Linked DNA regions of Homo sapiens. The gene in region 1 interacts genetically with each later gene. Each region holds a gene or a part of one and is shown in the gene's direction. Other genes may lie near its edges. The genes, in order: HECTD1 and NF2.

What was found.
Region 2: changes in HECTD1 (region 1) and NF2 together harm fitness more than expected from each alone (negative genetic interaction), as found in Homo sapiens cells (one large-scale study listed by BioGRID).

The regions. Positions count from the first base shown.
Region 1 is NC_000014.9:31,201,272-31,205,095, reverse strand, and holds part of HECTD1 (E3 ubiquitin-protein ligase HECTD1), read left to right. Parts: intron 1-3,824. UniProt on the Homo sapiens protein: E3 ubiquitin-protein ligase which accepts ubiquitin from an E2 ubiquitin-conjugating enzyme in the form of a thioester and then directly transfers the ubiquitin to targeted substrates.
Region 2 is NC_000022.11:29,606,384-29,610,207, forward strand, and holds part of NF2 (merlin), read left to right. Parts: intron 1-3,824. UniProt on the Homo sapiens protein: Probable regulator of the Hippo/SWH (Sav/Wts/Hpo) signaling pathway, a signaling pathway that plays a pivotal role in tumor suppression by restricting proliferation and promoting apoptosis.

The DNA.
Region 1 (3,824 bases):
GTTGAACATGTGTTTCGTTTTTACTGTTTATTTTACATTTGTATTTACAGTTTTGAACTCCAGTAATAAGTAATTGAAAACTCTGATGTTTCTTTATTCATTTTAATGCTATTTTAAGGTAATTAGTAGAAAATGTTTGAGATGTTGACCTAAAAAATTTGGTATAATTATCCTAATGTGTTTTAGGTGGGAATAAAGTTTATATTACTCAGTTGGCAAAATTTTTAAAGTACCTTCATTTTTGATTATTGAATAACTTTCAGTTGTAACTCTTGTTAAAACAGTACTAAGATAAAAATCCTTACTAATAAAATTTCCAAATTACAATTAGTTAGTGGTCCATTTATTTCCATTAGTTTTTGTCATTGGCAGAATTTTGAGTATGTAAGAATAACTTAGCCCTTAGTTGACACTTGTTTTAGCAGGATTTATAGTAAAGTAGATTTTTTAAAATTTATTTTTATTTTTTATTTTTTTCCTCATCCTGACTCTCAAGTTAAAAATTGCGTTCATAGATTTCATTAGAGGTAACCTGAAAGTTACTTTTGGTATTTTAAAAATCATACTTGTCAGTCAAGTCAATTGTCATTTCGTAGCTTCTGTTTAGTACTAATATGTAGTAGAAGTATTTGTTATGACATTTAAAAAAGTGTTGCCCGATCATTAAAAAGTCAGGAAACAACAGGTGCTGGAGAGGATGTGGAGAAATAGGAACACTTTTACACTGTTGGTGGGACTGACTGTAAACTAGTTCAACCATTGTGGAAAACAGTGTGGCGATTCCTCAAGGATCTAGAACTAGAAATACCGTTTGACCCAGCAATCCCATTACTGGGTATATACCCAAAGGATTATAATAATCATGCTGCTATAAAGACACATGCACACGTATGTTTATTGTGTCACTATTCACAATAGCAAAGACTTGGAACCAACCCAAATGTCGATCGATGATAGACTGGATTAAGCAAACGTGGCACATATACACCATGGAATACTATGCAGCCATAAAAAATGATGAGTTCATGTCCTTTGTAGGGACATGGATGGAGCTGGAAACCATCATTCTCAGCAAGCTATCGCAAGGACAAAACACCAAATGCATGTTCTCACTCATAGGTGGGAATTGAACAATGAGAACACTTGGACACAGGAAGGGGAACATCACACACCGGGGGCTGTTGTGGGGTAGGGGGAGGGGGGAGGGATAGCATTAGGAGATATACCTAATGTAAATGACAAGTTAATGGGTGCAGCACACCAATATGGCACATGTATACATATGTAACAAACCTGCACGTTGAGCACATGTACCCTAAAACTTAAAGTATAATAAAAAAAAAAAGTGTTGCCATGTTAAAACAATTTAAATGAAATTTTTAAAACATAAAATTTATCTCTATGTAAAATCCTTCCATCCTAACATAACAGCTGTTATTTTTTCCATTTTCCTTTCTAGGCTTTATTCATATATAGTATGATGTAATTTTTAAGAGACTGGGGCCTCACTATGTTGCCCAGTCTGGCCTCGAGCTCCTGGGTTCAAGCGATTCTCCTGCCTCGGCCTCTTCAGTAGCTGGGACTATAGGCTGTGCCACCACACCTGGCTTTATAATGTAATTTTAAGGAAATGAACCTAAAGTTAAGTCAGATATGATTTACTATATGAAGATACAAGAGTATTTCAAGTTGAAGGGGTTAGCCGTGTTTGGGGTAGTGTACCAGTAACCTCCAAAAACTAGACATTTGGTTTAATTTTGTGACTGTTTTGTTTTTAAACATTAGTTTGCTTTTCATTCTATAGCCAGATTTTCTTGTTGTTACAAGGGAAAATTGTCCTGGTTCCTTCTTGAAACTAGTGAGGGAGGCATAGTGAGATGGAAAGAATGGGCTGTGGCATCAGAGACTTGGGTTCAGATTCTTGGTCTGTTGTGTTCATTAGCCTCTGAGAGCCTTACTTTCTTCCCCTGTAAAATGGCAGTAGTCTTTTTTTCTTTTCTGTTTTTTCATATGAAGTCTTGCTCTGTTGCCCAGGCTGGAGTGCAGTGGTGCGATCTTGGTTCACTGCAACCTCCGCCTCCCAGGTTCAAGTGATTCTCCTGCTTCAGCCTCCCGAGTAGCTGGGACAACAGGTGCGTGCCACCATACCTGGCTAATTTTTGTATTTTTAGTAGAGATGGGGTTTCACCATGTTGACCAGGATGGTCTCCATCTCTTGATCTCCTGATCCACCTGCCTTAGCCTCCCAAAGTGCTGGGGTTACAGGTGTGAGCCACCATGCCCAGCCAGTAGTCTTTTTTCCAGTGGGCCTTCTTGTGAGGATTAAAGGAGAGAATGTATGTTAAGTGTTTTGAGTAAAGTGGGCTACCCACTGATGCCATCATTAATAAATATCTAATTTTGAATTTTATTTTAGCACTTTATTCCATGAATAAAGTGATTGATTTGGAAAGGTCTTTTAAAATTCTTTTAAACAATCAACTCCCAGCAGGCAAAAAAAGCAAGATGATGTGCATATTTTGAATATTGGTAAAAATCTTTCATACTACCTTGATTTCATAAAGTAGTAGCAAATAGGACTTAGTTCTGTCTAATAAACCAAAACATGCCTGTATGTCCTGATAATATGTTTGCTTAATTAGCTTGTCTTAATAGTTTCACATCTGTTTAGTCAGGAAAGGCAGGTGGTGTGGTAGAAACAGTGGCCTCTGCAATGGGATAGACTTGGGTTCAGATACCTGCCTTTTCCACTGAATAGTTGTGTGATAGCCTTTGAAGTCTGTTTCCTCATCCTTGCAGGATTTTTCTGAAAATAAATGGGATAATAGTCAAGGATTTCTTTTTCCTTTAACTTAGTATTGTACATGGCTCTCCACTTTTTTTTTTTTTTTTTTTTGAGGCAGAGTCTCGCTCTGTCACCCAGGCTGGAGCGCAGTGCTATTTTAGCCATGCCCAGCTAATTTTTGTATTTTTAGTAGAAACGAGGTTTCACTGTGTTAGCCAGGATGGTCTCAATCTCCTGACCTTGTGATCCACCCATCTCAGCCTCCCAAAGTGCCGGAATTACAGGCGTGAGCCACCGCGCCCGGCCGGCTCTCCACTGTTTGTACCCATTTTGACAGTGTCTTTCTGAAGTTCAACGAATATAACTTCTTCTATGATGTGTCAGTGCTTCTTATTAATGCCTGAACTTATCAAGGTAATGCTCCAGAAAGTAAAACACGTTCAAGATTCGTTTTTGCTTTTACCTGATGTATCGAGTTCTAAAATGTAGTAATGTAAACATGGCCGGGTGCGGTGGCTCATGCCTGTAATCCCAGCACTTTGGGAGGCTGAAGTGGGCAGATCACTTGAGGTCAGGAGTTCAAGACCAGCCTGGCAAACATGGTGAAACCCCATCTCAACTAAAAATACAAAATTTAGCTGAGCACTGTGGCATGTGCCTGTAATCCCAGCTACTTGGGAGGCTGAGGCAGGAGAATCTCTTGAACCTGGGAGCCGGAGGTTGCAGTGAACCAAGATTGTGCCATTGCACTCCAGCCTCGGTGACAGAGTGAGACCGTGCCTCCAAAAAAAAAAAAAAAAGTAAGTAATAGTAATATGAGTTATTAGCTAATGAGCATTTTGTATTCACATCAAAATAGGTGATCATCATATGTATTAATGTTATAAATATGTATTATGGGCATTTCTAGATCTTGCTACTAAATCTGAATATAATTTGAAAGTTATGTCCTCTGGAAATTGAGCATCTCAGAAGATGCTTTTAGGTGCTAGTAGGCTTTATTTAAAAAATAATGATGTCACTTAATTTTGAGGGCACA
Region 2 (3,824 bases), on another chromosome or scaffold:
ATTGCGGTCCCCTGCCTCCTTCCACCAAGTGCTCAGTTCCTAGAGTGAGGGTATTTCTCAGAGAGAATCTTTCCAGGGTCCTTCCCCACAGCTCCAGAGCCTTGGCTCCGGGATTTTGCCTCAGGAGAGAAGCAGGCCCTAAAACAGATAGCTCCTAATCTCTTTCCAATGGCAGTGACTTCATTTGCAACACAGTGTGGAGAAATTCATGCCTAAGGGCAATCTGGAGATGTGAAGGTTTTGGTAAGAGGCAACTGGGAGATCTGCGGATTTAATGGAGATGCAGCCTAGACTGTAGGCCTCCTGGTTTGCTGGAAAGAATTGGGGAATAAGACAGCTGGAAGAAGCCATTCTAGGATCAGAAGAAGGATCAAACATTGACCGCAGCATGGTGGCTCACGCCTGTAATCCCAGCACTTTGGGAGGCTGAGGCAGGCAGATCATCTGAGGTCGGGAGTTTGAGACCAGCTTGACCAATATGGTGAACCCCATCTCTACTAAAAATACAAAAATTAGCTGGGCATGGGGGCATACACTTGTAATCCCAGCTACTTGGGAGGCTGAAGCAGGAAAATCACGTGAACTGGGAGGTGGAAGTTGCAGTGAGCCAAGATCACGCCACTGCACTCCAGCCTGGGTGACAGTGAAGCTCTGTCCTGTCACAAAACAAAACATTGACCACAGACCTCTGAGGTGGTGGATGTCCCTCCTGTCCTGGTTGTATCATTATACATTGTATATTAATGTATCGAAATACTACAGGTACCCCCAACATGTGTACAACTATTATGAATCAATAAAAAACAATTTGAAAAGTAAGGTATGTGGCAGAGGTGGAAAAAAATGCTTTCCTCCAAACAGCCACAATTTGATTGTATCAGTTTGTAGAGTAAGAGCAAGTTATGCCTCAGTGTGTTGTTGAAAATAATAGAACAATATGCCACAATTAGTGGAGCTTCATAGCTGGGTGTGGTCAAGGAGAGAATAGAAGAGAACCCTACCAAAACCACTGTCATCCCAGGGTGACTGTGAGCATACCCAAAGCTGCACCTCCCTGAAGAGCAATATCATAGGCCTTAACACTTTTCAGGGGAAATGGATTTCACTCAAATAATCCAGCCAGTCGCTAAACAAATAAATAACAATTGGCCCTGGAGAGGGGGTACCAATCCCCAGAGTTGCTACAGTATATTATCTAAAATGTCCAGTTTCCAACAAGAAATTGTGAGACGTACAAAGAAACAGGAAAATATGACACATACACTGGAAAAAAGCTGGCAGCAGCAACTGCCTGTGAGACAAGGGGCCAAATTAATGAAAAAGGCTTCAAACTGGCCTATATATATATTCACAGTACTATATATATTCACAATACTAAAGGAAAATATGATGACAAAGAAGTAAAGGATGGTATGACACTGTTGCATCAATTAAAGAATATCCATAAAGATATAGAAATTATAAAAAAAGAATCAAATGAAAATTCTGGAGTTGAAAGTACAATAACAGCTGGGCGCGGTGGCTCACACCTGTAATCCCAGCACTTTGGGAGGCTGAGGCGGGCGGATCACCTGAGGTCGGGAGTTCGAGACCAGCCTGACCAACATGGTAAAACCCCGTCTCTGCTAAAAATACAAAAATTAGCCAGGCGTGGTGGCCGGCACCTGTAGTCCCAGCTACGCGGGAGGCTGAGGCAGGAGAATTCCTTGAACCTGGGAGGCGGAGGTTGCAGTGAGCCAAGATCGAGCCACTGCACACCAGCCTGGGCAACAGAGCAAGACTCTGTCTCAAAAAAAAAAAAAAAAAAAAAAAAAGTACAATAACAAATTTAAAAATTAACTAGAGGGACTCAGGACTCAATAACAGATTTGAACTGGGTGAAGAAAGAATTCGTTAATTTTTTTTTTCTTTTTGAGACAGAGTCTCGCTCTGTTGCCTAGGCTGGAGTGCAGTGGGGCAATCTCGGCTCACTGCAACCTCTGCCTCCCTGGTTCAAGCGATTCTCCTGCCTCAGCCACCGCACAGTGGCTTTGGGAGTACTCTGGGAGGCTGAGGTGGGTGGATCACCTGAGGTCAGGAGTTCAAGACCAGCCTGGCCAACATGGTGAAACCCCATCTCTACAAAAATACAAAAATTTAGTTGGGCATGATGGCGGGTGCCTGTAACCCCAGCTACTTGGGAGGTTGAGGCGGGAGAATTGCTTGAACCCGGGAGGCGGAGGTTGTAGTGAGCAGAGATCGTGCCACTGCCCTCCAACCTGGGTGACAGAGCGAGACTCCATCCCTGCCCTGAAAAAAAAAAAAAAGATGTGAAACACATACAAAAAAAAGTAAAATGGCAGTTGAATGCCAAGTAATTAGATAACTTCAATAAAATGGACAAACTCCTAGAAAGATATAAACCACCAAAATTGACCCAAGAAGAGACACTATCTGAATAGACCTATAACAAGTAAAGATATTAAATTAGTAATTGAGGGGACTCGTGGGGTAACTTGCCCTTGGGAACCAGTAGTATGGCATCGGGCTGCAAGATTGGCCTGTCCATCCTCAATGCTACCTGGCCAATTTAGGGGCCCAGTGCCTCTGGATGCTAGACTCTGGGGTCGATTATCTCCACCGGAATGTAATGGATGAACATGCATGTGATGGTGTCCAAGCCAGAACAGTGGGTAAAGCCAATGGCTATAAGAGGAGCCAATCAGTACATCTTTCATCTCGAGGAAACTGAGAACCCAGGGGCTTTGATTAAAGACATTCAGGAGAATGGGATGAAGGTTGGCCTTGCCATAAAACCAGGAACCTCAGTTCAGTATTTGGCACCATGGGCTAATCAACTAGGTATGACCTTGGTTATGACAGTGGAACCAGGGTTTGGAGGGCATAAATTCATGGAAGATATGATGTTAAAGGTTCACTGGTTGAGGATCCAGTTCCCATCTTTGGCTATAGAGGTCGCTGGTGGAATAGATCCTGACACTGTCCATAGGTGTGCAGAGGCGAAGCTAACATGATTGTGTCTGGCAGTGCTATGGTGAGGAGTGAAGACCCTAGATCTGTGATCAGCCTGTTAAGAAACATTTGCTCAGAAGCTGCTCAGAAAGATTCTCTTGATTGATGAAACCTTAAGGAGCCCAATGTTTGTTTATGAAATCTCCTTTTTACTGGAAAACAGGAATATTGACTACCAAATCATAGTGTAGTTGAAGCCATTCTGCGTTTTTGAGCAGTTATTCGTTTCAGTGATTATAATTGATTGTGCAGAGTATTCTAAGAAGTTAGAAATTGGTGTGTATAACTACATTTTCAGTGATGCAATTTAATGATTAGTGAGTGAGATACTGTTTTTATTGAGAGCCTTGATTTTTATAAAGAGTAAAAATATGGCTGCATTAAGGGTACAAACAGAAAAGTGTCTTAATGTCTAAGGAGGGCATATTAGCTACACTATAAAAACAATTTTTTTCTGTATTTCTGAAAAGAATTTTGTTGTTTCTCAGTTGTTTTCCAAAAGCAAAGGAAGTCTTAATGTTTTTTTCTATTTCGTGTTATGTGTGATTTGTTTATATGCTTGGTAATATGAGTCTAATGGAATTTAAAAATATAAGTTTGGGTAGGATAGTATACCCTTAAAAAATAAATAAATAATTAGAGAGAGAGAGAGAGAGAGAGACCTGGGCACAGTGGCTGTTGCCTGTAATCTCAGCACTTTGGGAGGTCAAGGCAGGAGGATCCTTTGAGGCCAGGAGCTTGAGACCAACCTGGGCAACATAGAGAGACCCCAACTCTAAAATATACATACTATATCTAAACTCAGCTAGGCG